Homo sapiens: one gene and its partners. The protein of the gene in region 1 interacts with the protein of each later gene in a pairwise test. Each region holds a gene or a part of one and is shown on either strand. Other genes may lie near its edges.

The links.
Region 2: the proteins of PSMC6 (region 1) and CYB5R2 interact in binary tests that used the Homo sapiens proteins (3 or more experiments, as listed by UniProt).
Region 3: the proteins of PSMC6 (region 1) and CRKL interact in binary tests that used the Homo sapiens proteins (3 or more experiments, as listed by UniProt).
Region 4: the proteins of PSMC6 (region 1) and SEC14L5 interact in binary tests that used the Homo sapiens proteins (3 or more experiments, as listed by UniProt).

Annotation. Positions count from the first base shown.
Region 1 is NC_000014.9:52,722,424-52,729,358, reverse strand, and holds the end of PSMC6 (26S proteasome regulatory subunit 10B), read right to left. Parts: intron 5,555-6,935; coding exon of another isoform or gene 5,532-5,554; exon of another isoform or gene 5,485-5,531; intron 5,395-5,484; coding exon 5,323-5,394; exon of another isoform or gene 5,319-5,322; intron 1,861-5,318; coding exon 1,742-1,860; 3' UTR 769-1,741; downstream 1-768. UniProt on the Homo sapiens protein: Component of the 26S proteasome, a multiprotein complex involved in the ATP-dependent degradation of ubiquitinated proteins.
Region 2 is NC_000011.10:7,660,149-7,667,587, forward strand, and holds the end of CYB5R2 (NADH-cytochrome b5 reductase 2), read right to left. Parts: intron 7,157-7,439; exon of another isoform or gene 6,464-7,156; coding exon of another isoform or gene 6,407-6,463; intron 6,403-6,406; coding exon 6,303-6,402; coding exon of another isoform or gene 6,239-6,302; intron 5,792-6,238; coding exon of another isoform or gene 5,692-5,791; exon of another isoform or gene 5,679-5,691; intron 5,399-5,678; coding exon 5,226-5,398; 3' UTR 4,956-5,225; downstream 1-4,955. UniProt on the Homo sapiens protein: NADH-cytochrome b5 reductases are involved in desaturation and elongation of fatty acids, cholesterol biosynthesis, drug metabolism, and, in erythrocyte, methemoglobin reduction.
Region 3 is NC_000022.11:20,928,558-20,936,547, forward strand, and holds part of CRKL (crk-like protein), read left to right. Parts: intron 1-5,221; coding exon 5,222-5,687; intron 5,688-7,990. UniProt on the Homo sapiens protein: May mediate the transduction of intracellular signals.
Region 4 is NC_000016.10:5,001,822-5,009,811, forward strand, and holds part of SEC14L5 (SEC14-like protein 5), read left to right. Parts: intron 1-1,580; coding exon 1,581-1,752; intron 1,753-4,092; coding exon 4,093-4,227; intron 4,228-5,530; coding exon 5,531-5,665; intron 5,666-6,599; coding exon 6,600-6,827; intron 6,828-7,990.

The DNA of each region.
Region 1 (6,935 bases):
CTGTAAACCCATGGTGAAAAGATTTGGGCCGGGCGCGGAGGCTCACGCCTGTAATCCCAGCACTTTGGGCGGCTGAGGCGTGTGGATCACCTGAGGTCGGGAGTTTGAGACCAGCCTGACCAACATGGAGAAACCCCGTCTCTACTAAAAATACAAAAATTAGCTGGGTGTGGTGGCGCATGCCAGTAATCGCAGCTACTTAGAAGGCTGAGGCAGGAGAACCGCTTAAATCCGGGAGGCGGAGGTTGCAATGAGCTGAGATAGTGCAATGGCACTACAGCCTGGGCAACAAGAGCGAAACTCCATCTCAAAAAAAATCAAAAATAAAAAAAGAAAGAAAGGATTTGTACACCAAATTGATTCTTTAAAAAACCACCGCCAGCACAAAGGTAAAAGGCAAGATAGTCACTCCTTAACTAAATGCAAATTATAAGTGAAAAGATCACATAGATATTTGACTTAAACCTCCCCCTACATTCTACTTTTTGTCACATAAAATGCACTGCCAACACATAGAAATAGAACTGTACAATAATTTGAGTATGAGATGGCTAACTTGACCACTCCATTTTCTATTTTAACTGTTCATCTTCTAAAATTATAAAAAGGCACATAATATCCTGCTAGGAAGTTTTTAATTTGAAGAATTATTGTATAATTAGCTAGGTCATGTATTTTTGGTTCTTTAGTGTTTATGAAACTGAAGTTGTCTTTTCTTTTCACCAGCATCTTTAATAATTATTGATGCCCAATGATGATTCCTTTGTGTACTTTGTTATAGCTTTTATTGCCAGATGATATAAGAATCATGTATAGGTAACAGAAATCATGTTTTGAACATTTCTGACACTCCTACATCCCCTACATCATACACTCTTAGCCAGGTATCCATACATACCTAAAGAGTCCTTGGATGAGCTTGGGAAACAATAAATTTCCTGAAATTATAGTATACGCAAAATTGTATGTTAGAATTTTTCCTGGAAGAGGGTCCAGACCTCCACATCCTCAACAGGGACCTATCGTCTTACATAAACCAAGAAAACCCAGTCACATATTAGCAAATATTACGTTGAATCATACTCTTTAAAAAGTTATGGATGTGCATGTATATTTTCAATTAACCAACAATGAGCTTAATCACAGTAGATGAAGAATATGTAAACACTTTCTGAAAGGAGGAGTACAGACATACCCACACATCCATGTTTTATTTAAGAAGATGATCTTATGAACATTAAGTATGTGTACTATTTTAAAATAATATTCAAAAATCCACAATCCATCTGGGTTATCAAATAGTTTACTTGCTAAAGAACCTAAAGGACCACAGTAAATATACTCAGAAAAGACAAGAATATATATGTAGGAGAACTGAATCAAACAGATTTTATTCAACTTTTTAGATGAGGAAAACAAATGATACAAAATAAGTCATAAGAAATGCTTTCTTATACCACTATCTCAAACCACTTTCAATATTTTACAAAATGCTCACGCAGCAAATATGAAAAGCTTCAACACTTTCCCTTTGTAACTTGCTGCAATAAATGCAACTTTAACAAACATACAAATTTCTTCTGTATCTTAAAAGTTGAATTACTAATTTTTATGATGTTACTCATATTTTTATTCATATACTTTTAATGACATCATTACCAATACATACATTATTTTCTTTAACTTTATTTTTACAATAAGCCAACATCTGTCATGCAGCCATCAAAAATCTTACAGTAAATTACACAGGTTTGTAGTCCAATTTAGACTCCAGCTTCTTAGAATCAGCCACTTTTCTGACTGCTTTCATGAAGTCTTCCTGTACTACAAAATCATGATCAGCACGAATTGCGAACATACCTGTAGAGAATAAAACAACATGACTGCTATATATCACATATGAATTATATGTTCATTATAAGAAAAACAATATAATTCTATGGAATAAATGTGAAGCTTAGATTTATTACTTCTGAGCCAGTAGTTGTAATTTGCTAAAAACCACTATCTTTTTTCAATTAAAATCCACAGGCCGGGTGCGGTGGCTCACGCCTGTAATCCCAACACTTTGGGAGGCCAAGATGGGCAGATTGCAATGTCAAGAGATTAAGACCATCCTGGCCAACACGGTGAAACCCCATCTCTACTAAAAATACAAAAAAAAAAAAAAATTAGCTGGGCATGGTGGCGCGCGCCTGTAGTCCCAGCTACTCGGGAGGCTAAGGCAGGAGAATGGCTTGAACCCAGGAGGCGGAGGTTGCAGTGAGCTGAGATAGTGGCACTGCACTCCAGCCTGGCAACAGAGCGAGACCCCATCTCAAAAAAAAAAAAAAAAAAAAATCCATAGCGGTGTTGTGATTATGTTCTAAAACAAAAACAGGTATGACCATTATATGAATATTTAACATCCGGTTCAAGGCTGGGCACGGTGGCTCACACCTGTAATCCCAACACTTTGGGAGGCCAAGGTGGACGGATTACCTGGGGTCGGGAGTTCGAGACCAGCCTAGCCAACATGGTAAAACCCCGTTTCTACTAAAAACACAAAAATTAGCTGGGCGTAGTAGTGGGCATCTGTAACCCCAGCTACTTGGGAGGCTGAGGCAGGAGAATCGCTTGAACCCGGGAGGCAGAGGTTGCAGTGAGCCAAGATCGCACCACTGCACTCCAGTCTGGGTGACAGAGTGAGGCTCTGTCTCAAAAAAATAAAATAAAATAAAATCAGGCTTAAATGGTCCCTGTATCTGATTGTAGCTCTTAATAAAAACAAGCATAAAAAACCGAAGCAATCAAAACTACCAACACATACACATTTTAAGCGTAACTTAACTTGACAGGAAGCAATTTGCTGGAAGGCACACATTTATGGGGGAAAAAAAATCTTGAGTAAGTTTGATAGCCATTCTTTGTTAATAATCAAAAACGTTGAGAATAGGGAATCATATAGAAAGCCAACAGCGGGTTTTAGCAAAACTCGGAGTCATTATTCATGTGTTAAAATTTACCTAATTTATGTACAAATTGGTATTTTTATTTGATTCATATTTGAGTATCACAACTCAATTTTTTCCTTCAACTTTTTGACAAGTACCTTCTCAAACAGTATTTGACAAAGGGGTAAAAGTTTCCTTGTATGCAGTTTTTTAAACATTAGTTGTGTTATGGATATGGGTCCCAGATTTTGAGATAATCCTAACTCATGATAAACTAAAGCAGGTAAGTTTATTGCTATCTACTAATTAAATGAATTCTAAAATTTCCACTGAGGATCTGCCTGTATTGAATTTTCACTTACATAAAATGAGGGAGTTAATATAGAAGATTTCAAGGATTACTTCCTTTCTAGATTTCTACATAAGGAAACAATCTATGTTGTCCTAGAAACCGGGTGAATGGAAATGACTGATTTTTAAAAAATAACAAAGTTTCAAAACTTGTTTAGAAAGCTACAGTGAAACTAGGTAAGTTATTTTTGTAAACCTTGCACACATGGCTATTTTCCAAATCACTTTAGTGAATAAGTAAATCTGCACAAGAGATGCCTGGCCAGGCCTGGTAGCTTGTGCCTGTAATCCCAGCATTTTGGGAGGCCCAGGTGGGTGGATTACTTGGGCCCAGGAATTTGAGACCAGCCTGGACAACATGGTGAAACCCGTCTCTACAAAAAATACAAAAATTAGCTGGGTGTGGTGGCGCACGCCTATAGTCCCAGCTACTGGAAGATAAAGGAGAAATGATCAGGTCTGGGCTACAGGGAGCAGTGATCATGCCACTGCACTCCAGCCTGGGCCAGAGTGAGACTCCGTCTCAAAAGAAAAAATAAAATAGAGATGTATTATAATCCAAAAGAGATAATGTCAGGACCTGAACAGGAAGGGCAACTGTAGTTGAATCAAGTGTATTTTAACTTACGAAAAATGTTAACAAAAAAGCCTTCAAGTCTAAAAAGAAGATAAAAATTTCAGTATGTTTCCAGATGTGAATGTCCCACCTAGTTAAAAAAGAACTACAATTTTAATCCACACAGAAGTTATAGCTCATTTGCAATAACTAAAGGTAAATTTGTAAGAATATGTAAGGAAAAAAAGCGTATATTTTGATAGCAACAGCCTTTAGGTTCACTGCACAGCTTGCATTTGGATTACAATCTAACCAAAGCAATCTTCTGATAATAATTTGGTCTGGTTTACATTTTGGAAAGAGAATGTCATAAATTACTCTAACTTGTTCAAGCTATATGACAGTTTACCTCTAAATAGTTTAGTTTATTGATAACGCTCTGTGAGCATGATTTACCCTAATTTGCATTGACAGCATTTCTAGACGTGAACAGAAGTATCTGACCTGCATATCTGATGCAGATACTGACTCACAGCATACCCAATACCCATGAAGATACCTGTACTGAGAAGCCCTCCCTGAGCAGCCACTTTAAACACTGTGTTGAATTTACTAAGGCTAAACATGATATGAAAAGCAAGAGGAAATCACATATTCTAATACTTAAGAAAATCTATAACCTATAAAGTCAGTAACTATACTGTAGAAGTTTATTTTTTCTATTTAAAGATTCTGTATGGAAGACAAAAACTAAATGATTCTAGGTAGGGTATTAAAGCTACTTGGTACTGGAAATAAAAATAGCATCACACAATTTTTACATACCATGTAGAAGTGAAAAAAATAGTATCACACAATCCACAGAGAATTATATTTAAATACTACATTTTACACAAATGGCATGATCACATAATTCATAAATCAATCTTTCAAAACACTGCTCACAGACTAGTATTAGACAACATACACAATTCATTTTGCAGCAGATACCTCTGGTGCTGGCCCATTCTAATTCCAGCCACAGGTGTGGTAGGCAATTCTGTAGCACCTCAGACTTACTTTAGGGGGCCAGTGTTCTATTACATGCCTCTCCTTCCACATTCTGCCCTAAGGCAGGTAGAAGTGCAAAGGAGTCAACACTACCAAGGACAAATCTCATCCAATGGGGGATGAGTACTGGTAAATCAATGTTCTAGTCTCCCAACTTTCAGCTGGGTGATCCTGGAAGGCATTCTGTATGCTTCTCTGAGATCTAACCTCCCTTTCCTACAGCACCTACCTCAATGGTGCACCCTCATATTAGCTTTCCCTCTTTCCATCTCACTTGCCCTGCTTCTCCTATTTCCTGGAATCGATTCCTAAAAGAACAGCATGAACCCAAATCCTTGCAAAGTCTATGCTCCGCTTTCAGATAAACTCAAAACAGTTTCAGCAAATTTTAAAAATCAAAATCAATAGTAAAACTGTACTTTAAACCCTTACCTGCTTCAGTACAAACATTTCTCAGATCTGCTCCATTAAAGCCATCCGAAAGCTTCACAATTGCTTCATAATCTGTTTAGAAAAAATACTGGAAATTAGTTTTAAAAATTAGACCTTTACTTGATTTATGCCCACATCGAAAATTTAAACTGAAGAGCTTACTTTGAGTTTGATCAGCTAGACATCAGCTCTGTTAACTTTCCACAATATTAATATCCAAAAACTAAGACTTCTGTTAAATAAACCAGCACCAAGAAGAATTAGACACACCCCTGAAACTTTAAAAACAGGAAATATCACCAAAATCTCAAAATATCTTAATCTATTTTTATACAGTGAAATAGCTATGCACATGTGAACTCCAGATACCTGTTAAGCTGTGACTCTTATCAAAACTGTAATCAAATCTTGGATTTGAATAAACCTATAACACTCAAAACCAATTATAACAATGGAATTTACTTTGTTTACTTTAATCATACAAGCCAAATATAAAGTATAGCAAAACTGAAATGTAATCATACATAATTGTATCACATGGAATTTTTAAATGCTACAGCATGCATTAGCTAGCTTCTCTGGTTTCTGTGCAAGATTCAAGTGGTGAAGTATCAGATCTATGGTAGCAGTAATAAAGTGAGTTCTCCATCCACCCACATAACAGACATGAATCAAAGAGCTATAGGATTGGGGTAGCAACAATGGATCTGATACAGAATAGGAAGAGAAGTAAGACAGCACAGGCTACTACAGTTTGAATAACTTTGATGATGCACCGTTTGGTCAGGCAATATAGGGCATGTCGTTCTCTATTTGAAATCACACATATATTCATGAATTGTCTTTAATCAGGTTTAAGTTCATTGTAAGCTTCCTGAGAGCAAGAATTCCCAAGGCTAGCACAGTATCTGGCATCTAGCAAGAGCTCAGTATTTGTGGAAGAAACCTATACATTGACATCCTTTGTTCAGTTCGGTCTTTCCAGCTCAAAACTCTCTAACAGGGGCAATGAAGATAGTGAAATTCAACAATCAGCTATTTGTCATTATTCTGGACCATTAACTTCTAAAGAGTTTTTAAGGCTGCCTGGAAATTATACTAGATTTCCCTAGTCTGGAGGTCAGCAAACTTTTTATGTAAAGGGCCAGAGAGTAAATACTGTATGCTTTGCAAGCCATATGGTTTCTGTTGTAACTATTCAACTCAGCTATTCCAGTAGGAAAGCAGCCATAGACAACAGATAAATGAGCATGCTTGGGTTACAACAAAACTTTGTGTGTTTCCAAAAACACAGGGCAGGCAGAATTTGGTTCACAAGCCATGTTTTACTGGCCTGCACCCTAGTCCAATCCCTCACTTCCATAGATAATGACTTTATACCTTCTCCTTTGTCCTCAAATCTCTAAGAACACTTCCCTATCTTCATTCTGAACGTGCATTCTACTTCACTGAGAAAACAGAAGCATTCAGAAAAAAACACTTCCACAAGTTCCTGCACTATCTAAGAACCTGTCATCATAAGCATCTATGTACTCTGCCTTTCCTCCAGTCTCATAAAAGTACACATATATATAGGGCCAATCCCTCTTCAAGGAAAGAACATTGCCAATTTC
Region 2 (7,439 bases), on another chromosome or scaffold:
CTGCCTAATTGCCCTGGCCAGAACTTCCAACACTGTGTTGAATAGGAGTGGTGAGAGAGGGCATCCCTGTCTTGTGCCCGTTTTCAAAGGGAATGCTTCCAGTTTTTGCCCATTCAGTATGATATTGGCTGTGGGTTTGTCATAGATAGCTCTTATTATTTTGAAATACGTCCCATCAATACCTAATTTATTGAGAGTTTTTAGCATGAAGGGTTGTTGAATTTTGTCAAAGGCTTTTTCTGCATCTATTGAGATAATCGTGGTTTTTGTCCTTGGCTCTGTTTATATGCTGGATTACATTTATTGATTTGCGTCTATTAAACCAGCCTTGCATCCCAGGGATGAAGCCCACTTGATCATGGTGAATAAGCTTTTTGATGTGCTGCTGGATTCGTTTTGCCAGTATTTTATTGAGGATTTTTGCATCAATGTTCATCAAGGATATTGGTCTAAAATTCTCTTTTTTTGTTGTGTCTCTGCCAGGTTTTGGTATCAGAATGATGCTGGCCTCATAAAATGAGTTAGGGAGGATTCCCTCTTTTTCTATTGATTGGAATAGTTTCAGAAGGAATGGTACCAGTTCCTCCTTGTACCTCTGGTAGAATTCGGCTGTGAATCCATCTGGTCCTGGACTCTTTTTGGTTGGTAAGCTATTGATTATTGCCACAATTTCAGATCCTGTTATTGGTGCATTCAGAGATTCAACTTCTTCCTGGTTTAGTGTTGGGAGAGTGTATGTGTCGAGGAATTTATCCATTTCTTCTAGATTTTCTAGTTTATTTGCGTAGAGGTGTTTGTAGTATGCTCTGATGGTAGTTTGTATTTCTGTGGGATCGGTGGTGATATCCCCTGTATCATTTTTTATTGTGTCTATTTGATTCTTCTCTCTTTTTTTCTTTATTAGTTTTGCTAGCAGTCTATCAATTTTGTTAATCCTTTCAAAAAACCAGCTCCTGGATTCATTAATTTTTTGAAGGGTTTTTTGTGTCTCTATTTCCTTCAGTTCTGCTCTGATTTTAGTTATTTCTTGCCTTCTGCTAGCTTTTGAATATGTTTGCTCTTGCTTTTCTAGTTCTTTTAATTGTGATGTCAGGGTGTCAATTTTGGATCTTTCCTGCTTTCTCTTGTGGGCATTTAGTGCTATAAATTTCCCTCTACACACTGCTTTGAATGTGTCCCAGAGATTCTGGTATGTTGTGTCTCTGTTCTCGTTGGTTTCAAAGAACATCTTTATTTCTGCCTTCATTTCGTTATGTTCCAAGTAGTCATTCAGGAGCAGGTTGTTCAGTTTCCATGCAGTCGGGTGGTTTTGAGTGAGATTCTTAATCCTGAGTTCTAGTTTGATTGCACTGTGGTCTGAGAGATAGTTTGTTATAATTTCTGTTCTTTTACATTTGCTGAGGAGAGCTTTACTTCCAACTATGTGGTCAATTTTGGAATAGGTGTGGTGTGGTGCTGAAAAATATGTATATTCTCTTGATTTGGGGTGGAGAGTTCTGTAGATGTCTATTAGGTCCACTTGGTGCAGAGCTGAGTTCAATTCCTGCGTATCCTTTGTTGACTTTGTCTCGTTTATCTGTCTAATGTTGACAGTGGGGTGTTAAAGTCTCCCATTATTAATGCGTGGGAGTCTAAGTCTCTTTGTAGGTCACTCAGGACTTGCTTTATGAATCTGGGTGCTCCTGTATTGGGTGCATATATATTTAGGATAGTTAGCTCCTCTTGTTGAATTGATCCCTTTACCATTATGTAATGGCCTTCTTTGTCTCTTTTGATCTTTGTTGGTTTAAAGTCTGTTTTATCAGAGACTAGGGTTGCAACCCCTGCCTTTTTTTGTTTTCCATTTGCTTGGTAGATCTTCCTCCATCCTTTTATTTTGAGCCTATGTGTGTCTCTGCACGTGAGATGGGTTTCCTGAATACAGCACACTGATGGGTCTTGACTCTTTATCCAGTTTGCCAGTCTGTGTCTTTTAATTGGAGCATTTAGTCCATTTACATTTAAAGTTAATATTGTTATGTGTGAATTTGATCCTGTCATTATGATGTTAGCTGGTTATTTTGCTCGTTAGTTGATGCAGTTTCTTCCTAGTCTTGATGGTCTTTACATTGTGGCATGATTTTGCAGCGACTGGTACCGGTTGTTCCTTTCCATGTTTAGCACTTCCTTCAGGAGCTCTTTTAGGGCAGGCCTAGTGGTGACAAAATCTCTCAGCATTTGCTTGTCTGTAAAGTGTTTTATTTCTCCTTCACTTATGAAGCTTAGTTTGGCTGGATGTGAAATTCTGGGTTGAAAATTCTTTTCTTTAAGAATGTTGAATATTGGCCCCCACTCTCTTCTGGCTTGTAGGGTTTCTGCTGAGAGATCCGCTGTTAGTCTGATGGGCTTCCCTTTGAGGGTAACCCGACCTTTCTCTCTGGCTGCCCTTAACATTTTTTCCTTCGTTTCAACTTTGGTGAATCTGACAATTATGTGTCTTGGAGTTGCTCTTCTCGAGGAGTATCTTTCTGGCGTTCTCTGTATTTCCTGAATCTGAACGTTGGCCTGCCTTGCTAGATTGGGGAAGTTCTCCTGGATAATATCCTGCAGAGTGTTCTCCAACTTGGTTCCATTCTCCCCATCACATTCAGGTCCACCAATCAGACATAGATTTGGTCTTTTCACATAGTCCCATATTTCTTGGAGGCTTTGTTCATTTCTTTTTATTCTTTTTTCTCTAAACTTCCCTTCTCGCTTCATTTCTTTTATTTCATCTTCCATCACTGATACCCTTTCTTCCAGTTGATCGCATCGGCTCCTGAGGCTTCTGCATTCTTCACGTAGTTCTCAAGCCTTGGTTTTCAGCTCCATCAGCTCCTTTAAGCACTTCTCTGTATTGGTTATTCTAGTTATACATTCTTCTAAATTTTTTTCAAAGTTTTCAACTTCTTTGCCTTTGGTTTGAATGTCCTCCCGTAGCTCAGAGTAATTTGATCGTCTGAAGCCTTCTTCTCTCAGCTCGTCAAAGTCATTCTCCATCCAGCTTTGTTCTGTTGTTGGTGAGGAGCTGCATTCCTTTGGAGGAGGAGAGGCGCTCTGCTTTTTAGAGTTTCCAGTTTTTCTGTTCTGTTTTTTCCCCATCTTTGTGGTTTTATCTACTTTTGGTCTTTGATGATGGTGATGTACAGATGGGTTTTTGGTGTGGATGTCCTTTCTGTTTGTTAGTTTTCCTTCTAACAGACAGGACCCTCAGCTGCAGGTCTGTTGGAATACCCTGCTGTGTGAGGTGTCGGTGTGCCCCTGCTGGGGGGTGCCTCCCAGTTAGGCTGCTCAGGGGTCAGTGGTCAGGGACCCACTTGAGGAGGCAGTCTGCCCGTTCTCAGATCTGCAGCTGCGAGCTGGGAGAACCACTGCTCTCTTCAAAGCTGTCAGACAGGGACATTTAAGTCTGTAGAAGTTACTTCTGTCTTTTTGTTTGTCTGTTCCCTGCCCCCAGAGGTGGAGCCTACAGAGGCAGGCAGGCCTCCTTGAGCTGTGGTGGGCTCCACCCAGTTCGAGCTTCCCGGCTGCTTTGTTTACCTAAGCAAGCCTGGGTAATGGCGGGCGCCCCTCCCCCAGCCTCGCTGCTGCCTTGCAGTTTGATCTCAGACTGCTGTGCTAGCAATCAGCGAGACTCCCTGGGCGTATGACCCTCCCAGCCAGGTGCGGGATATAATCTCATGGTGCGCCGTTTTTTAAGCCCGTCGGAAAAGCGCAGTATTCTGGTGGGAGTGACCCGATTTTCCAGGTGCGTCCGTCACCCCTTTCTTTGACTCGGAAAGGGAACTCCCTGACCCCTTGTGCTTCCCAAGTGAGGCAATGCCTTGCCCTGCTTCGGCTCGCACACGGTGCGCGCACCCACTGACCTACACCCACTGTCTGGCACTCCCTAGTGAGATGAACCCGGTACCTCAGATGGAAATGCAGAAATCACCGTCTTCTGCGTCGCTCACGCTGGGAGCTGTAGACCGGAGCTGTTCCTATTCGGCCGTCTTGGCTCCTCCCTTGCATGTTGTCATTCTTAATGGGGGTTTGGGGAAGGAGTCTGAATAGGTTCCATGGAAGAGATGACACTTGAATTTGGAAACATGAATCATATTTTCCCAGGTATGCCGGAGAGGAAGGGCATTCCAGGTAGACAGACTTGAAACAGCCCAGTACAACCTAGGGATTGCCAAAAGTTGGTAGGCTAGAGCAGGGTTTCCTGGCCTCTGTGCTGCTGTCACTTTGGGCTGCGTAATACTCTGTGATGGAAATACTCTGTGATGGAGGCTCTCCTGTGGGTTTTAAGATGTTTAGCAGCATCCTTGGTCTCTACCCTCTAAATGCTAATAGAGGGTAGATGCACCCCTTCTGTAGCTGACAACCAACATGTCTTTGGACTTTGTTATCTGTTCCCTGAGCAGCAAAATCACCCTCAGTTGAGAACCAGTAGGTGAGAGAATGGGGTCGGAGTTGGGGGCCCAGGGAAAGAAAAATCTGATAAAGTCGGCAGGAGCAAACCAAGAAGGGCCTTGGGAGCCAGGCCCTGGAGTGTGTCCTGGAGAGATGGGGGTGGCCAGAGTGGGGTCTCCCTTGAAAGCAGTGAAGGATCCCCAAGGAGACAGTGAACAGGGGGATGGGTGAGGTTGGCTGTCCCTCCCCCCCACCCCGACAGACCCTCGTTTGGGTTTCATGATACAAAGGATTTAAGGCAGTTTCTGGAACCTGACTTTGAAAGTTGAGAAGTTTCTGTGTGTAACCACTCCTACCATGACCCCTAGTGCCATGGAGAGATTCTTGAGAGTTGATGTGACCCCACTTGGAGTTTTTTAGGAACTGCCCCGACACTTGCCAGTTGTGACCCCCATGGGCATGCAGAAGCCAACTCACAGGCCAGGCCACGGCCTCCTGACTGCCTAGCACGTCCCCCACAGAGCCACACTTCATGGGCTGTCTGCTTTGTACTTGAGTTTATTTCACAAAACCACGGAGAAAGATACTGAAATGGAGCTCTTTCCAGCCTCCAAGCAAGGAGGCCCCAGCAGCCAGTCTCCAGCCCCTTGAGCCCTTTTTGTTAGGCCCACACCCAAAAGAGGAGAACCAGTGTGTGCGCGAAGGTACATGGCAAGGCACTTTTGAAAACATCCCAGTTTACCGTGGTGAAATTGAACTTACTCTGAAACAGATGAAAAGGGACATGCAAAATTGCTGAGCACGTGGAGGTGTTAGTAGGTGAAAATCATGTCCTGGGTATAACCCAGCTTCTCCAGGTTAGGGTGAGCCGCCGTCTGGATTAGTGGTGGCGGGCCACACACCAGGATGAGCGTGGACTTCGCTGGAGGAGGAAGGTGCTCCTTGATCATGTCGGCAGTAACGAAGCCTGAGCTGTACTTCCAGCCTGAAATGAAGGAGATGCAGGAGCAAGCTGAGCGATGCCAGGTGGAGTTCCTGATCCCAGGCCGCCTGCACACCCACCCTCAGCCAGGGAGGAGGTGACAAGCTGCTCTACAAAGGCTTAGAAGTCTGTACTACTGCTCCCTGCAAAAAGCCTCAGAACTAGTAAACAGCCCTCTGCAGCAATCACCCCAGGTCCCAGGCTCACTGCAGGGACCCTGAAGCCCTGCTGCTGTCTGTCAGCTGTCAGCATTGACGAGGAAGGAGAACACAACGAGGTATACCGAGGTGTGTGAATCAGTACAGCCAGCTGGAGTTGTCCGGCAGGGTGTGGCCTGGTGTTAGTGGAACTGCGCAGAATTGCTCAGTAGGGTAGCGCCCTCTGCCGACCAGGGACCTGTATGACAAGCAGGTACAGCCGGGAGCAGTGTGAGAGGCGCGCCTGTGGGGTGCTCTGTGCACAGTGGTTGCTGGGATGCTGTCTGGGCTGCAGCAGCTGTCTGGGGGCTCAGCATGTCCAGGTGAGGTGGGCGGTAAGGGGTGTGGTGGCCGTAAGCAGAAGGGTGAGTGGTGAAGGGGTCAGTGCCCATATTAGATGTGTATGTGATGGCTGTGTGGAATGGGTGGGTGTTCACAGTGGACAGGGGCAGTGTCCCTTTTGATGTTCAGTGCAGCGTGAGGTGCTGCTGATGTATTAGACACCTGCTCTCGATTGCCCTTAAAAGCAGGCCATCCCAAATCCTTTCTCCCTCAATTTCTCACATTTCCCATCTGGAGCCAGAGCCCCAGGCTTAACCCCCACATCTGGTCCTACAAAACTAAAACAAAACAAAGAGACAGAGACCAGTCCTCAAAGTGGTCAAGGGTTGGTGCTGACCCATGGTGAGTGAGGGCAATGGATGTCGTACCAATGGGAGGCCTGTCCAGGGTGTACCACAGGTTGAACTGGTCTGGGTGAGTCCTGGCAATTTCTTCAAGCTCTTTTCTGACCAAGATATCCTCCTCTGTCTAGAAAAGAAGCAACACTGAAAAAGCCCCTCCAGGGCCATCCTCTTGTTCCCTGGACTGACTACACCGGTCAGCATACTCCTGGCCAAAGCTGCCACCACTCCAGCTGGAGTGCTCGCTGCCAACTCCCACGGCAAACAAGAGTTCTGCTGCTGCTCCTGAAGCTCAAACCCTTTGTTTTGTGGATGAAGTTCCTCCATGTGGATGAAGAACCTCCATGGGATGTAGGTTCCCATGGAGCTGCAGTGACCGCCTCCAACTAGAAGGACCTTAGCCAAGCGCTGGCCAGGATGGCTTCACTCGGAGCTCCAGCCCTGCCTCCTACATCTACACTGAGCTCTAGCACAGCAAACCTAACTGGAACAAGCTCAGTGCAGGCCCAGGATCTTCTGGAAGAAATGTAATGGGCTCAGAAAGTCCTGTGATAGAACAGCACTGGATATGTGAAGGAGAGGAAAACAGTCTGGAGCCCCATTTGGGGGAAAGGGAACCAAAGCCAAAAATAACCTGTCACAGCCTCAAAGATAACTGCACAGAAGACCTGGATCTTAAAACTCCTCATGATTCTCATCCCAGTCATTCCACTTCTGGGATTCTGTTTTAGAAAATAATCTAAAAGTAATCAAGCGTAGGCACAATTATTCATCACCATATTATTTAGAACTGAAAACAGCCTGAATGTGGAAGTTAGTAAATTATAGTGCAACTTGATAAAAACTATGATGAAAATATTTATAAAGCATCTTAAAGAGAAGAAAATGCCTGTTGTGGTAATGCTGAGTGAAAAAAAAAAAGCATATATAAATTACAAATATATAACATATATAGAAAAAAGATTTAAAAAGTAAGTAAATATTTATATTCTGTATTTTCTGAAGTGTCCACTGAGGACATCTGTGATTTTACACTTAGCAAAAATACAGCAGTACATCTTAAGGAAAAAAGGAATGCTTAGTGCTTAGGGCTGGCTGAGGAGACACAAAAGAGTTAAATACATGCAAAAAGCAGGCCTGGACTCAGCTTCTCCAGCTGCCAGC
Region 3 (7,990 bases), on another chromosome or scaffold:
ATCCCAGGACTTTGGGAGGCTGAGGTGGGAAGATTGCTTGAGCTCAGGAGTTCAAGACCAGCTTAGACAACATGGCAAGACCCTGTTTCTACCAAAAATACAAAAATTAATCGGATGTGGTGGCATGCACCTGTAGTCCCAGCTACACAGAAGGCTGAGGTGGGAGGATCGCTTGAGCCTTGGAGGTTGAGGCTGCAATGAGCCATGATTGTGCCTCTGCACTCTAGCTCGGGCAACAGAACGAGATCCCATCTCAAAAAAAAAAAAAAAAAAAAAAAAAGGAATATTACCAGCACCTTTGAAACTTCCTTTTTCTAGAAGTTGATTGTATTGGTTCTTAGCATGCATAAGGAGATTTTAAGCTTAGAACATATTAGCACTTGGTTTAAAGATGTTTTGTGTATGGTTTATACATGTAGAAACTGAGAACGCTTTTAACCAAAAGAGCTGAGAGATTCGTTATCATCAGAAAAGAAAAGTCAGTTACGAATTAGTTGTTAGGGGCTTTGCTGCTCAAAGTGTGTAGTGGACAATAGGCAAAAAGTGAGAAGCATGGTCAAGGGTGTTTGGATGGGCTTGAAAACCCTGTGCATTTTATTTTATTTTATTTTATTTATTTATTTTTGAGTCGGAGTCTCACTCTGTTACCCAGACTGGAGTGCAGTGGCGCGATCTCGGCTCACTGCAAGCTCTGCCTCCCGGGTTCACACCATTCTCCTGCCTCAGCCTCCCGAGTAGCTGGGACTACAGGCGCCTGCCACCACGCTCAGCTAATTTTTTTGTATTTTTAGTAGAGATGGGGTTTCACTGTGTTAGCCAGGATGGTCTCGATCTCCTGACCTCTTGATCCGCCCGCCTTGGCCTCCCAAAGTGCTGGGATTACAGGCGTGAGCCACTGCACCTGCCTTATCTATTTAATTTTTTGAGACGGAATCTCTGTCTGTCGCCCAGGCTGGAGTGCAGTGGCATGATCTCAGCTCACTGCAACCTCCGCCTCCCGGGTTCAAGCAATTCTCTTGCCTCAGCCTCCCAAGTAGCTGGGCCTACAGGCACACGCCACCACACCTGGCTAATTTTTGTATTTTAATAGTGACAGGGTTTTGTCATGTTGGCCAGGTTGGTCTCAAACTCCTGACCTCATGATCCACCTGCCTCGGCCTTCCAAAGTGCTAGGATTGCAGGCATGAGCCACTGCGCCTGGGCAACACTTTATATTTTAAAGGGAAGTTGGGGGAGGGTGCTATTTTCAACCTTGCTCAAAGAACAAATAATTGGGAAGCAATAAATTTTCTGATGAATATGCTTCATATTTCTTTAGACAGTGGGGTCTAATGGAAAGGCTAAGATATCTGACATGGAGCAACATGTATTTATCTCTTCAGTGGAACTAATGTGTAATTTTCAGGGGAGTTTGATGAATAAATGAGTTTGAGAATATAGGGCAGAGGACTTGGAATTTGTGTCAGGGTTATGGCTGGTGAGATTGATTTGGTGTCAAATTTATGAATATCTCTGCAGATACTAACACAGAAAATGAGCCCCAAGGTCACTATAGCAGTATAGTAGTGGAGGGAAATAGAAACTATCTTTATCAAATTTCTACACAGACATACCCCTCACCAGGGAAGCAAGGAAGTTGAAAAGCACACTTTGCCTCCCTAACCCAGGAATTTAGATGGGGGATCAGCAAACTGTTGAGTAAAGGGTCAGATTTTAAATATTTTCAGCTTTTCCATAGAGTCTCTGTCCAACTACTCAACTATGCCTTTGTAGTGAAAAACAGTCATAGACAATACGTAAATGAATGGGCTTGGCTATCTTCTTTTTTTTGTTTGTTTTTAAGATGGAGTCTTGCTCTGTCACCCAGGCTGGAGTGCAGTGGTGTGATCTCAGCTCATTGCAACCTCTGCCTCCCAGGTTCAAGCAATTCTCTTCCCTCGGCCTCCCAAGTAGCTGGGCCTACAGGCGCACGCCACCACACCTGGCTAACTTTTGTATTTTTAGTAGTGACAGGGTTTTTTGTCATGTTGGCCAGGTTGGTCTTGAACTCCTGACCTCAAGTGATCCTCCCGCCTCGGCCTCCCAGTGTTGGGATTACAGGCGTGAGCCACCACACGCCTGGCTTTTTTTTTTTTTTTTTTTTTTTTTTTTTGAGATAGAGTCTTAACTGTTTCAGGCAGTGACGTGATCTTGGCTCACTGCAAGCTCCGCCTCCCGGGTTTACACCATTCTCCTGCCTCAGCCTCCCGAGTGGCTGGGACTACAGGCGTGTGCCACCACACCTGGCTAATTTTTTGTATTTTTAGTAGAGAGACAGGGTTTCACCGTGTTAGCCAGGATGGTCTCAATCTCCTGACCTTGTGATCCGTCCACCTCAGCCTCCCAAAGTGCTGGGATTACAGGCGTGAGCCACCACACACTGGCTAACTGCTTTTAACTATACAAATAATAAAATACTCTTGGATGGAGTCTAAGGTGGAACTGACTGTGCTCTTAATAGTGTCTGAAATTTATATGGTACTTACTGGACTGTTCACAGGCTCTCTGTGGCTCTTGAAATAGCAGGGGCTGGGTGTGATGGCTCACACCTGTAATCCCAACACTTTGGGAGGCCAAGGCGAGAGAATTGCTTGAGGCTAGAAGTTCAAGACAAGCCCTGAAAACATAGTGAGACCCCCATCTCTACAGAAAATTTAAAAATTGGCTGTGTGTGATGGCAACTGCCTGTAGTCCCAGCTACTCAGGAGGCTGAAGTGGGAGGATCACTTGAGCTTGGGAAGTGGAGGCTACAGTGAGCTGTGGTTGTGCCACTCTGCACTCCAGCCAGGATGACAGCAAGACCCTGTCTCAAAAAAAAGAGAAAGAAATAGAAGCAGGGATATACTTGAAGGGGTATGTGTGTGTTCATGTCGGTACATTGGATGCTTGGTGCTGCTCGGTAATTTTGAATGCCTCACATGCATTATGCCATTAATTCTCATACACCTGACAGATGCAGGGTTCGTCCCTAAGGCTGATTAGCTCATTATGAGTGAAGAGTTTAGAACCAGACTCCCTGAGTGCAAGTCTAACCTCTTCTTTGGCTCCTCATTTGTAAAATGGGGATAATAACAGCATCTACCTCACAGACTATTAAATAATCCAATCTCTTCAAAGATCGTAAACCATGCCTAGCATAGATAATAAGTATGAGCTCTTTATTATTACTCTTGCTCCTACTACTCTTGCTAGCTATTTATTTTTATTTTTATTTTATTTTATTTTATTTTTTTGAGACGGAGTCTCGCTCTGTCACCCAGGCTGGAGTGCAGTGGTGCAATCTTGGCTCACTGCAAGCTCCGCCTCCCGGGCTCACACCGTTCTCCTGCCTCAGCCTCCTGAGTAAGTGGGACTACAGGCACCCACCACCATGCCCGGCTAATTTTTTGTATTTTTAGTAGAGACGGGGTTTCACCGTGTTAGCCAGGATGGTCTCGATCTCCTGACCTCATGATCCGCCCACCTCAGCCTCCCAAAGTGCTGGGATTACAGGCATGAGCCACTGCGCCGGCCTCTTATTTATTTATGTTTTGAGACAGTCTTGTTCTGTTGCCCAGGCTGGAGTGTAATGATGCAGTCATAGCTCACTGCAGCTTCTAACTCCTGGGCTCAAGTAATGCTCCTGCCTCAGCCTCTTGAGTATCTGGGACCGCAGGTGTGTGCCACTATGCCCGGCTCATTTTTTGTCTGTTTAGTAGAGACAGGGTTTTGATATGTTGGACAGGCAGGTCTCCAAGTCATCTGCCTGCCTTGGCCTCCCAAGGTGCTGGGATTACAGGTCTGAGCCACCACGCCTGGTGGATTTATTATTTTTAATTTGGCAAGTCTGTAAGCCCTTTTTTGTTCCTTTTTTTTCAAGAGGCCAGAGGCAGAGGCCTTTGTCATTTTCTGTGTGTCCAGGGAAGTGTGCAGGATGTAAGCCATAGATTAGGACTGGGAGGAAGAGTGTGTGGTGGTTGTGACAAGGGTCCAAAGGAAGGCAGCTTCCGAACTTACTTGAGATTATAAAAATAAATTTAAACCAGGTATCTCTGTGTAATCAAAAGGTTTCTGTAAAACAGAGATGGAGTGTATGTGTGTGTGTATACTTGTAATTTGAAAAGACATTCAGAATAGTAACTTTTGGGACAGTACAGACTACAAAAATTACAACATGATAGAACCTTCTTAACTACTAAGAATATAGAAAGGAAAATAAAGCCAGGCGTGGTGGCTCACACCTGTAATGACAGCACTTTGGGAGGCTGAGGCGGGTGGATCACATGAGGCCAGCAGGAGTTTGAGACCAGCCTGGCCAACATGCCAAAATCCTGTCTCTACTAAAAATACAAAATTTAGCTGGGTATGGTGTTGCACATCTGTAATCTCAGCTACTCGGGAGGCTGAGGCAGAAAAATCACTTGAACACGGGAGGTAGAGGTTACAGTGAACTGAAATTGCGCTACTGCACTCCAGCCTGGGTGACAGAGCAAGATTCTGTCTCCAAAAAAAAGGCTGGGCTCAGTGGCTCACACCTGTAATCCCAGCACTTTGGGAGGCCGAGGCAGGCAGATCACGAGGTCAGGAGATCAAGACCATCCTGGCTAACAAGGTGAAATTCCGTCTCTACTAAAAATAGAAAAAATTAGCGGGGCGTGGTGGCATGTGCCTGTAGTCCCAGCTACTCAGGAGGCTGAGGCAGGAGAATTGCTTGAACTTGGGATGCAGAGGTTGCAGTGAGCTGAGATCCTGCCACTGCACTCCAGCCTGGGCAACAGAACAAGACTCCATCTCCAAAAAAAATGTAGAGGCCGGGCATGGTGGCTCATGCTTGTAATCCCAGCACGTTGGGAGGCCGAGGTGCGTGGATCGCCCGAGGTCAGGAGTTCAAGACCAGCCTGGCCAACATGGTGAAACCCCTTCTCTACTAAAAATAAAAAAAGTTACCTGGGCGTGGTAGTGGGCGCCTGTAATCCCAGCTACTCAGGAGGCTGAGGCAGGAGCATCACTTGAACCTGGGAGGCAGAGTTTGCAGTGAGCTAAGATCACGCTATTGCACTCCAGCCTGGGCGACAAGAGCAAAACTTGTCTCATAAAAAAGGAAAATAATTTATTATAGAGGAGAGTGGTATATTAAGAAGTTTGACAGGCACTGGCTTAGAGTAAGATTTTTCTCTTAGAGTAATTTTCTTTCTCTCTTAAGGTATCCAAGCCCACCAATGGGATCTGTCTCAGCACCCAACCTGCCTACAGCAGAAGATAACCTGGAATATGTACGGACTCTGTATGATTTTCCTGGGAATGATGCCGAAGACCTGCCCTTTAAAAAGGGTGAGATCCTAGTGATAATAGAGAAGCCTGAAGAACAGTGGTGGAGTGCCCGGAACAAGGATGGCCGGGTTGGGATGATTCCTGTCCCTTATGTCGAAAAGCTTGTGAGATCCTCACCACACGGAAAGCATGGAAATAGGAATTCCAACAGTTATGGGATCCCAGAACCTGCTCATGCATACGCTCAACCTCAGACCACAACTCCTCTACCTGCAGTTTCCGGTTCTCCTGGGGCAGCAATCACCCCTTTGCCATCCACACAGAATGGACCTGTCTTTGCGAAAGCAATCCAGAAAAGAGTACCCTGTGCTTATGACAAGACTGCCTTGGCATTAGAGGTAAAATCTGTTCAGATTAGCTTTTTGGGTCCTTTGACATTTGGTTTTAATTTTTAGTTTTAGTTTAGTTTCTGCTCATTTAAGCTTATATTCATGGAATTAGAGCACTGGATGATTTTGGAAGATACGCACTGTTAGCGTTTCATTTTAAAATTTTTTTATAGAGACGAGGTCTCTAATTTTAAAAGAGTTGTTTGCCCAGGCTGATTTCGAGGTCCTGGCCTCAAGCAATCCTCCTACCTCGACCTCCCAAAGTACTGGGATTACAGATGTGAGCCACCATGCCTGGCCCATTATTAGTGTTTCACAGCTTGTTTTGTTCTGTCCTATTCCTTGTTTGCCCCAAATTCTCAGCCTTCTTGCTCTTTCTTGTTCCCAAAGCCTAACAGATTTAGTTTTGCAGTTGTTGGTTTTTCTTCCAGTAAGGAAAGATAATGATTAAGGAAGACCCATGACCTAGAGGCAAAATCAACATATATGGTTCTGTATTTCTAACATTGGAATCAGTTGAGAAATATGAAAATGTCTTAGAATTTCTCTTGAGCTTGGTAGAGGAATGAATTTTTTTTTTTTTTTTTTTTTTTTTTGAGATGGAGTCTCACTCTGTCGCCCAGGCTGGAGTTCAGTGGCTCAATCTCCGCTCACTGCAAGCTCCACCTCCTGGGTTCACACCATTCTCCTACCTCAGCCTCCCAAGTAGCTGGAACGACAGGCACCCGCCACCACGCCTGGCTAATTTTTTTGTATTTTCAGTAGAGACAGGGTTTCACCGTATTAGCCAGGATGGTGTCGATCTCCTGACCTCGTGATCTGCCTATCTTGGCCTCCTAAAGTGCTGGGATTACAGGTGTGAGCCACCGTGCCCGGCCCAGGAATGATTTTTTTTGAGATGGAGTCTTACTTTGTCACCCAGGCTCCAGCACAGTGGCATGATCTTGCCTCATGGCAACGTCTGCCTCCTGGGTTCAAATGATTATCCTGCCTCAGCCTCCTTAGTAGCTGGGATTACAGATGCCTGCCACCATGCCCGTCGAATTTTTGTATTTTTAGTATAGATGGGGTTTCACCATGTTGGCCAGGCTGGTTTTGAACTCCTGACCTCAGGCGATCTGCCTGCCTTGGCCTCCCAAAGTGCTGGGATTACAGACATGTGCGACCACGCCCAGCCATAGAGGAATGATTTTAAAATACATCAGCCCTTGCTTGTTATGGATTTTGTAAATTAGAATAGCATGAAATAGAACTTGAACATTTTAATTACCAAGTCATTTTCTTTTCTTTTTTTTTTTTTTGAGACAGAGTCTCGCTCTATTGCCTTGTTGCCTAAGCTGGAGTGCAGTGGCGTGATCTTGGCTCACTGCATCCTCCGCCTCCTGAGTTCAAGTGATTCTCCTGCCTCAGCCTCCCGAGTAGCGGGGCTACAGGCATGCACCACCCTGCCCGGCTAATTTTTGTATTTTTAGTAGAGACGGGGTTTCACCATGTTGGCCAGGCTGGTCTCGAACTCCTGACCTCAGGTGACCCACCCACCTTAGCCCGCAAGTGCTGGGATTACAGGCATGATCCACTGCACTTGGCCAAGTCATTTTCTTCTAACTAAATATTACTTTTTAAAAAAACTCTTTCTCAGCTGGGCACAGTGGCTCATGCCTGTAATCCCAGCACTTTGGGAGGGCGAGGCTGGTGGATAACTTGAGGTCTGGAGTTTGAGACCAGTCTGGTCACAGACATGGTGAAACCCCATCTCTACCAAAAAATACAAAAATGAGCCAGACGTGGTGGGCATGCACCTGTAGCCTCAGCTACTCAGGAGACTGAGGTGGAACAATTGCTTGAACCAGGTAATTAGAGGTTGCAGTGAGCCGAGATCATGACACTGCATTTAAGCCTGGGCAATAGGGTGAGACCCTATCTCAAAAAAAGGGGGGAGAATGTTGAGAGAGAGCCTAAGTGCATTTCAGAAGGATGAAGTAAGGGACCCTCTTGCTTCAAAAAAACCAAATCCTGACTCACCAAACAGCCTGCCCACAGATAAAAGTTAGCTAGAATTGGTTTCATGGGTATTTTTCCATAGGTTGTCCTCAGTGTTTTTTTGTTTTTGTTTTTGTTTTGTTTTGTTTTGAGACGGAGTTTCGCTCTTGTTGCCCAGGCTGGAGTGCAATGGCACGATCTCGGTTCACTGCAACCTCCGCCTCCTGGATTCAAGCCATTCTCCTGCCTCAGCCTCCGGAGTAGCTGGGATTACAGGCATGTGCCACCATGCCCGGCTAATTTTTTTGTATTTTTAATAGAGACGGGGTTTC
Region 4 (7,990 bases), on another chromosome or scaffold:
GAGTGCAGTGGTGCAATCACAGCTCACTGCGGCCTTGACCTGCTGGGCTCAAGCAGTCCTCCCACCTCAGCCTCCCAAGCAGCGGGGACTATAAATGTGCACCACCTTGCCCAGCTAATTTTTTTTTTTGCAGAGATGAGGTCTCACCCTGTTGCTCAGGCTGGTCTAAAACTCCTGGGCTGAAGTGATCCTCCCACCTTGGCCTTCCAAAGGGTTGGGATTACAGGCGTCAGCCTCTGTTCCCAGCCTGTAAAGTGGCTTTTACAAATGGATTCTCAAAAATAATAAGGGTTTAAAAATAATGCAAACACGGATCTTGCACTTGCTATGTAGCAGGTGCCCTTCTAAGCACCTTGATTCATTTCCTCCTCCTAAACAGCCCTGTGAGACACGGGCAGGCAGGAGCTGCTGCTTCAGCTTTTCAGCCCCAAATATCCCGATCTTTGTGAAAATTAAAGTTCCTTTGCTGTTTGCAGATTTTTTTTTTTTTTTTTTGACAGAGTCTCGTTCTGTCGCCCAGGCTGGAGTACAGTGGTGCAATCTTGGCTCACTCCAACCTCCACCTCCTGGGTTCAAGTGATTCTCGTGCCTCAGCCTCCCAGGTAGCTGGGATTACAGGTGCCTGCCACCACGCCTGGCTAATTTTTGTATTTTTAGTAGAGATGGGGTTTCACCATGTTGGCCAGGCTGGTCTCTAGAGATTTTCTAAGGACACGTATGTTGGGGTGGAAGTGGGAATCAATCCATTAGTGTCCTGGCCGGAAGCATAATTCACCCCAGATGGCTCAAATGAGGGAGTGTCATGAAGGGATGCTTTGGAGAGGTGTGTGCAGGTTTAAGCGAACAAATCTGGGAGGTGGAGGCTCCCGGGCACCAGCCGCTGCAGTCAAACAGTTATTTTCCTAATGAATGAATACTAATGAAATGGAGGCACAGAGAGGTTCAGGACTTGACCAAGATCACACAGCAAGTGGCAGAACTGGGATTTGAACCTTGGCCATCTGACTGTGGAGTGCATGCTCTCAGCACCTCTGCTCTATTTAGTAGTTAGCATCTTTTCAACAATTAACTCATTTATGCCTGAGGTTGCAATGTTTTGAATTTTTGCAATCAGACCTTGGTGATGACCTTGAGCAGTAGGATAGAAATAACTCCCACACGCTTAGCATTGCAATAATGGAATGCTAGGCCTAAATGGCCACTTGTGATAACCAGCTATAATTGAGGGCATGTGGTGTGCCCGTCCTTGCAGAGAGCTTTGTATATACCATCTCACTTGATCCTAACAGCAGTTGCTTCAGATGAGGACTGTTACTACCTTTGCCACTGTCCTATGAGTAAGTGGGTCTGTGCCCTGACCTAAGGCTCTCAGGGGTGCAGGTGAGACTTGAATTTGGGCGCTCAGCCCTGAAGTCCACAGTCTGATCCTCTTCATCGCATGGGCTCCCTACTGTGGCAGGAGCCCCCATCTGCTCCCAGCCCTATCTCTCGGAGCCTCCCTGTTCATCCCCTGTGGGGAGGGTGTTGGTGGCCTTGGGAGGCAGCAGAGCCAGGTGGAGCTGGGGCTATTTCTGCCACAGCTCCTGGACCTGCCTGCTAGACCTGGAGGGACTCAACATGCGGCACCTGTGGCGGCCGGGGGTGAAGGCCCTGCTGCGGATGATTGAGGTGGTTGAGGACAATTACCCAGAGACCCTGGGTCGGCTGCTCATCGTGCGAGCCCCCCGAGTCTTCCCCGTGCTCTGGACACTGGTAAGAGCTGGAGCCTGGGCCAGGACTCTCCCTGGGGGTGGGTGGGATGGGAGGGGTTCCGTCTGCAAGCAGCTCTGCTCTCTTTTCCTGTTTCATTTCATTTAGTAACTTTTTGGAGATGAAACTCACATAGCATAAAGCTCACACTTTTTAAGTATAGACTCCAGTGGTCTTTCCTGTATTCACTGAGTTAAGCAATTGTCACCACTAGCCAATCCCAGAACATTTCTGTCGCCCCAAAAAGAACCCCCATGCCCATTATCGTGGGTCTCAAATTCCTGGGCTCAAGCGGTCCTCTTGCCTTGGCTTCCCAAAGTGTTTGTGTTATAGGTGTGAGCCACTGCGCCTGACCTGAAATATACTCTATATTGTAACCCGGTGGGTACACGCGTGCATGCACCCATGTGCGCGCACACATACACCCACGCCCACACACACACTCCTCTGAAACAAGGGTGCAGCCAGCCACTTGCATAGTGTGGGCAAAAGCCTGGAGGCTGGACCCAGCTTGATGCTTTGGAGGAACTGAAGAAACAGTCCAGGGTGGCTGAGCAAAAAAGAGCAAAAGGGACGACAGCACCTGAGGAGGCTGGAAGATGTACAGGGGCAATAGGGACCCATGGAGGGTTCAGTAGCAGGGGAGGGTGGGGGACAGACTTAGGGGCCAGGAAGTTCTCTAGCTTTTGTGGGTGCTTCAAGGCTCTGTTCAGGTGAGGCTAGGGGGCAGGAGCTGCTTCTGAAGCTTTTTATCCTGAATTGTCCTAATCTCCGGGAAAATTAAGTCCACCTGCTGTTTGGGGTGGTTTTGGGAGTGCGAGCACATCAGCCGGGGTCCTGGCTGGAAGTGGACCTCACCCAGATGGTTCAAATGAGGGGTGTCCTGAAGGGGCTCCTTGCAGAGGTGTGGGCAGGGGAAGGAGAGACCCCAAGCACCAGTGACTGCAGTAAGCCTGGCCACCCCCAAGAGGAGGGAATGTCCTTGCAGAATCCTGGGGAAAGCTGGGACAGGGGTGGGGGCAGGGAGCTACTGGGGGTCAGCCTCAGCCTCCTGGGGCCCAGCACAGCACAGAGCGCAGTGGGGCTGGGGACAGGAGAGGGCCCTGCACGGGGGGATTGCAGTTTCCTCACCTATCTCTTGGCTTGTGGCATTCCCTGTAGAACTGGCCTGTTATCTGCCATGCCAAGGGCTCCTTCCTTCTTTCTCTCTCTCCCACTTCCTTCCTTCTTTATCAACATGTGGCTTAGAGCTCAGTGTTAAAATGGATTCCATCTGGAATAAACAAACTGTGGAATACTGTTCCATCCATGTAATGGAATAGCATTCGTCCATAAGAAGGAAGGAAGCACTGATCCTCCAACACGGAGGGACCTCGAAAACCTGATGCTCAGTGAAAGGGGCCAGACACGGAAGTCCATGTACTGTGTGATCTCCTTTATATGAAATGTGCAGAATAGGGCTGGGCGAGGTGGCTCACGCCTGTAATCCCAGTACTTTGAGAGGCCGAGGTGGGTGGATCACCTGAGGTCAGGAGTTCAAGACCAGCCTGGCCAACATGGTGAAAATACAAAAGTACAAAATTAAAATACAAAAATTAGCCAGGCATGGTGGTGGGAGCCTGTAATCCCAGCTACTTGGGAGGCTGAGGCAGGAGAATCACTTGAACCTGGGAGGTGCAGCTTGCAGTGAGCCAAGATTGCGCCATTGCACTCAAGCCTGGGAGACAGAGCGAGACTCTGTCTCCGAAACAAAAACAAAAAAGAAACGCCCAGAATAGGCAAATCCACAGAGACAGAGTGTAGATGGGTGGTTGCCCTGGGTTGGGGGAGGGGAGATGGGAAGTGACGGTGGGGTGGGAATGGGGTTTCCTTCTGGGGTGATGAACATGTCTAGGTAGAGGTGCTGGCTGCACAAGCTAGTGAGTGCACTGAAAGCCACTGAACTGTGCACTTTATAATGATTAATTCTATGTTGTATAAATTATATCTCAATAAAAAAATACATCCATGGTCAGGCGTGGTGGCTCACACCTGTAATCCCAGCACTTTGGGAGGCCGAGGCAGGTGGATCACGAGGTCAGGAGATCGAGACCATCCTGGCTAACATGGTGAAACCCCGTCTGTACTAAAAATACAAAAAAAAATTAGCCGGGCATGGTGGTGGGTGCCTGTAGTCCCAGCTACTCGGGAGGCTGAGGCAGGAGGATGGCGTGAACCCGGGAGGTGGAGCTTGCAGTGAGCCAAGATCATGCCACTGCACTCCAGCCTGGGCGACTGAGCAAGACTCCGTCTCAAAAAAAAAAAAAAAAAAACCATCCATCTTGCCTTATGTCCTGGTTTCAGATCAGCCCCTTCATCAATGAGAACACCAGGCGGAAGTTCCTCATCTACAGTGGCAGCAACTACCAGGGACCCGGAGGCCTTGTGGACTATCTGGATAGAGAAGTGATCCCTGACTTCCTTGGGGGAGAGAGTGTGGTGAGGCTTCCATGTCCACAGACAGACCTGGGCTTGAGGAGGGGGCATGCCTAGCTGGGAGGCTGGGATTCCCGGAGTGGGGCTGGGAGGTGGAGGGGGGCTGGGTGCGGCATGTGCACTCTGCCTAGGGCAGGTCTTGCTGGCTCTCAGCAGCCACAGGGCTTGCTTTAGAAGCTGCTTCAAAGAGAGGTGATGCTGTTCTGAGGTTGGGCCTTACTCTGGGTCCTTCAAACATAGTGAGTGAGATAGAAGTTTCTGGAAGCCTAAAGATTAGGCCAGTCAAAGGCTTACGCATTCTATATTCCCATCAAAGACATTGCCAAGCAGCAGTGAGTTAACCTGCTCATTCACTGCAGGGGAGGTGACTCGAATGTATCTGCAGCTCTGGACCCTGGAGCTGGGACTAGCCTCCAACCCACAGCCACACAGCCTGAAACGATCAGGAACCCCCTTCAAGGGAGGCAGTGTCCAGGCCCCTTTTATTGCCTCCCCTGGGGTGAAATGACAGGCTGGGGTGATCCTAGGTCACAACTCTGTCATCTCATATGGCCCCCAGTGGCCCGGGCCCTCTTTGTTTCTAACAGAAATACCAGACAGTGAGCTTGCGTCATTTCTGGATTTTAAAAAAGTCTTTTCCTAGGAATTTTTCCAGGCTTGCCTGTTCTCTCCGTTTGTGATGTGCGGCACACACGACTTATTTTTAGCAAACGGTTCTGCAGATCTGAGAGTGGCTTATGGAAAGACACTGAACAGTGTCCTGCTAATCCCAGTGTTTCTACAAGTGAAACGGGGTGGGGGTAATCATTGTTTGGTGGTGGCAGGGGGAGTTCTGCCAAGGCCTGGCCATCTAGGGTGCCTTTGGTTTGGGGAAATCTCTCGATGAGCACGGTGCAGTGACTGTTCCACCCCCGCCTGTGACGGGGAGAGGCAGCTGCTATGGGGTGCGGTGTGGAGAGGCCCCCCAGCCTGGCTGTCAGTCCGGCACCGGGGTAAAGGGACATGAGCATGGGGCTGTGACGAACGTGGGTTTGTGCCCTGGCTCACTCACTTTCTGCTGTGTGATCGTGGGCGAGTGGCCTGACTTGCCCGAGCCTCCATTCCTTCCTCTGTGAAACGGGAAGAATAATAGTCTCTACTGCATTGGTGGACCTGGGGATTAAATGGGGTCATGGAAGCCCACAGCCCATTCAGTAAGGGGTTGCAATTATGAGTGGCTTTGGGGGTCACACATCACCCTTCTGTGGGTCAGGCCAGCCAGGCCTCAACTGGCCCTGACCTGCTGCCCTTTATCTCTGACCTGCAGTGTAATGTCCCCGAAGGAGGGCTGGTCCCCAAGTCCCTCTACATGACAGAAGAGGAGCAGGAGCACACGGACCAGCTGTGGCAGTGGAGTGAGACCTACCATTCAGCCAGCGTGCTCCGCGGAGCCCCCCACGAGGTGCCAGGGCCTGGCCGGGGAGGGCCCGCTGAGCTGGAGTGTCTGTCGTCTTAGGTCAGGTGACCCCAAAACACAGCTTGAGATGAGGATTCTTTTTTCTTTTCTTTCTTTCTTTCTTTCTTTTTTTTTTTTTTTTTGGGATGGAGTCTCGCTCTGTTGCCCAGGCTGGAGTGCAGTGGTGCAATCTTGGCTCACTGCAACCTCCACCTCCCAGGTTCAAGCAATTCTCATGCCTCAGCCTCCCGAGTAGCTGGGATTATAGACATATGCCACTGCGTCCAGCTAATTTTTGTATTTTTAGTAGAGACGGGTTTTCGTCATGTTGGTCAGGCTGGTCTTGAAATCCTGAGGTCAGGTGATCCGCCCGCCTAGGCCTCCCAAAGTTCTGGGATTATAGGCGGGAGCCACGGCGCCTGGCCTCTTTTTTTTTTTTTTTTTTGAGACCGAGTCTCACTCTGTCACCAAGGCTGGAGTGCAGTGGCGCAATGTTGGCTCACTGCAACTTCTGCCTCCCAGGTTCAAGTGATTCTTCTGCCTCAGCCTCCCGAGTAGCTGGGATTACAGGTGCCAGCCAGCATGCCTGGCTATTTTTTTTTTGTTTGTATTTTTAGTAGAGATGGGGTTTCACCATGTTGGCCAGACTGGTCTCGAACTCCTGACCTCAAGTGATCCACCCACCTCGGCCTCCCAAAGTGTTGGGATTATAGGCATGAGCCACCAAGCCTGGCCGAGATAAGGATTCTTATGCCAGTGATCTGTTGCAGGCGAGGTCTCAGGAGAAAACTGAGGAGAGGAGGGCACTCCTGTAAGGAATGAGCGTGTGCCTGGGAAAGGAGACCCCAGGGGGCACCCACAGCCCCTCCTGCCACTGTGTTCCCCACCCCAGCTCTACTCTCTCGGCCGTGACTCTCAGACCTCGCCTGTCTCCACACAGGTGGCCGTGGAGATCCTGGAAGGAGAGTCGGTCATCACCTGGGACTTTGACATCCTGCGAGGGGACGTGGTGTTCAGCCTGTACCACACCAAGCAGGCGCCCAGGCTGGGCGCCCGGGAACCGGGGACCAGGGCCAGCGGGCAGCTGATCGACAAAGGCTGGGTCCTGGGCAGGGATTACAGCCGTGTGGAGGCTCCCCTTGTCTGCCGGGAGGGGGAGAGCATCCAGGTTTGCATTTTCTGGACCACTCATTCGCTCACCAAGCAGCACTGAGTGTCCACTGCGTGCCAGGCTTCTGGGGATACAGCGGAGGACATACTGGGCTGCTGGTCCCCAGCCTCAGGGACCCTGCAGGACAGGGCAGAGGAAAGACACACAGGGTCTCATGTAATGAAGTGCTCACCTGCCCAATGGCAGCCGGTGCAAAATCGAGAAAGCACGGGGTGCTCTGCTGAGAGGTGGCTGGTGTCTTGGGGAGGAGCACAGGGTCTGGAACCTGAGTTTCCCCATCTGGGAAATGGGACTTCTAACAGGATCCAACTGTATTTGTTTCTTGGGGCTGCAGTAATGAGTTACCACAAACTACATGGCCTAAAACAACAAAAATTTATTGTCTCACAGTTCAGGAGTTCACAAGTCCAAAACCAAGGTGTTGGCAGGGCCACGCTCCCTCTGAAGGCTGTAGGGAGGGGTTCATTCTATGCCTCTGTCCTAGCCTTAGGTAACTCCTGGCAATCCTGGGTGTCATTGGTGGGTAGATGCATCACCCCAATCTCTGCCTCTGTCTTTAAAGGGGTTTCTTCTCTGTCTGTCTCTCTTCTGAGTCTCAAATCTCCCTCCCCTCTCTCCTGTAAGGACACTAGCCATCACAGTTAGGCCCCATCTTAAATCCTGTTTTTTTTTGAGACAGGGTCTCACTCTATCCATGATCAGGAAACTTTTGCGGGACTGGGAATGTAGTGATATGATCACAGCTCACTACAGCCTCTACCTCCTAGGCTCAAGCGATCCTCCCATCTCAGCCTTCTGAGTAGCTGGGACTACAGGTTCCCGCCACCATGTCCAACTAACTTTTGTATTTTTTGTAGAGATGGGGTCTTGCTATGTTGCCCAGGATGATCTTGAATGCCTGAGCTCAAGCGATCCTCCTGCTTCAGCCTCCCAAAGTGCTGGGATTAGAGGCGTGAGCCACCATGGCTGGCCTCACCCTAAATCCTTAACCACAAAGACTCTATTTCCAGATAAGGTCACGTTCTGAGGTTCTGGCTGGACATGAATTTTGGGGGTACACTGTTCAACCCACTGCATTAACTCAAGCAGGGGGAAGGATGAGCATATTGGAATTTGAAGTTCAGGTTGCCTGCATACATTCAAGTGGCTTCAGTATGGAC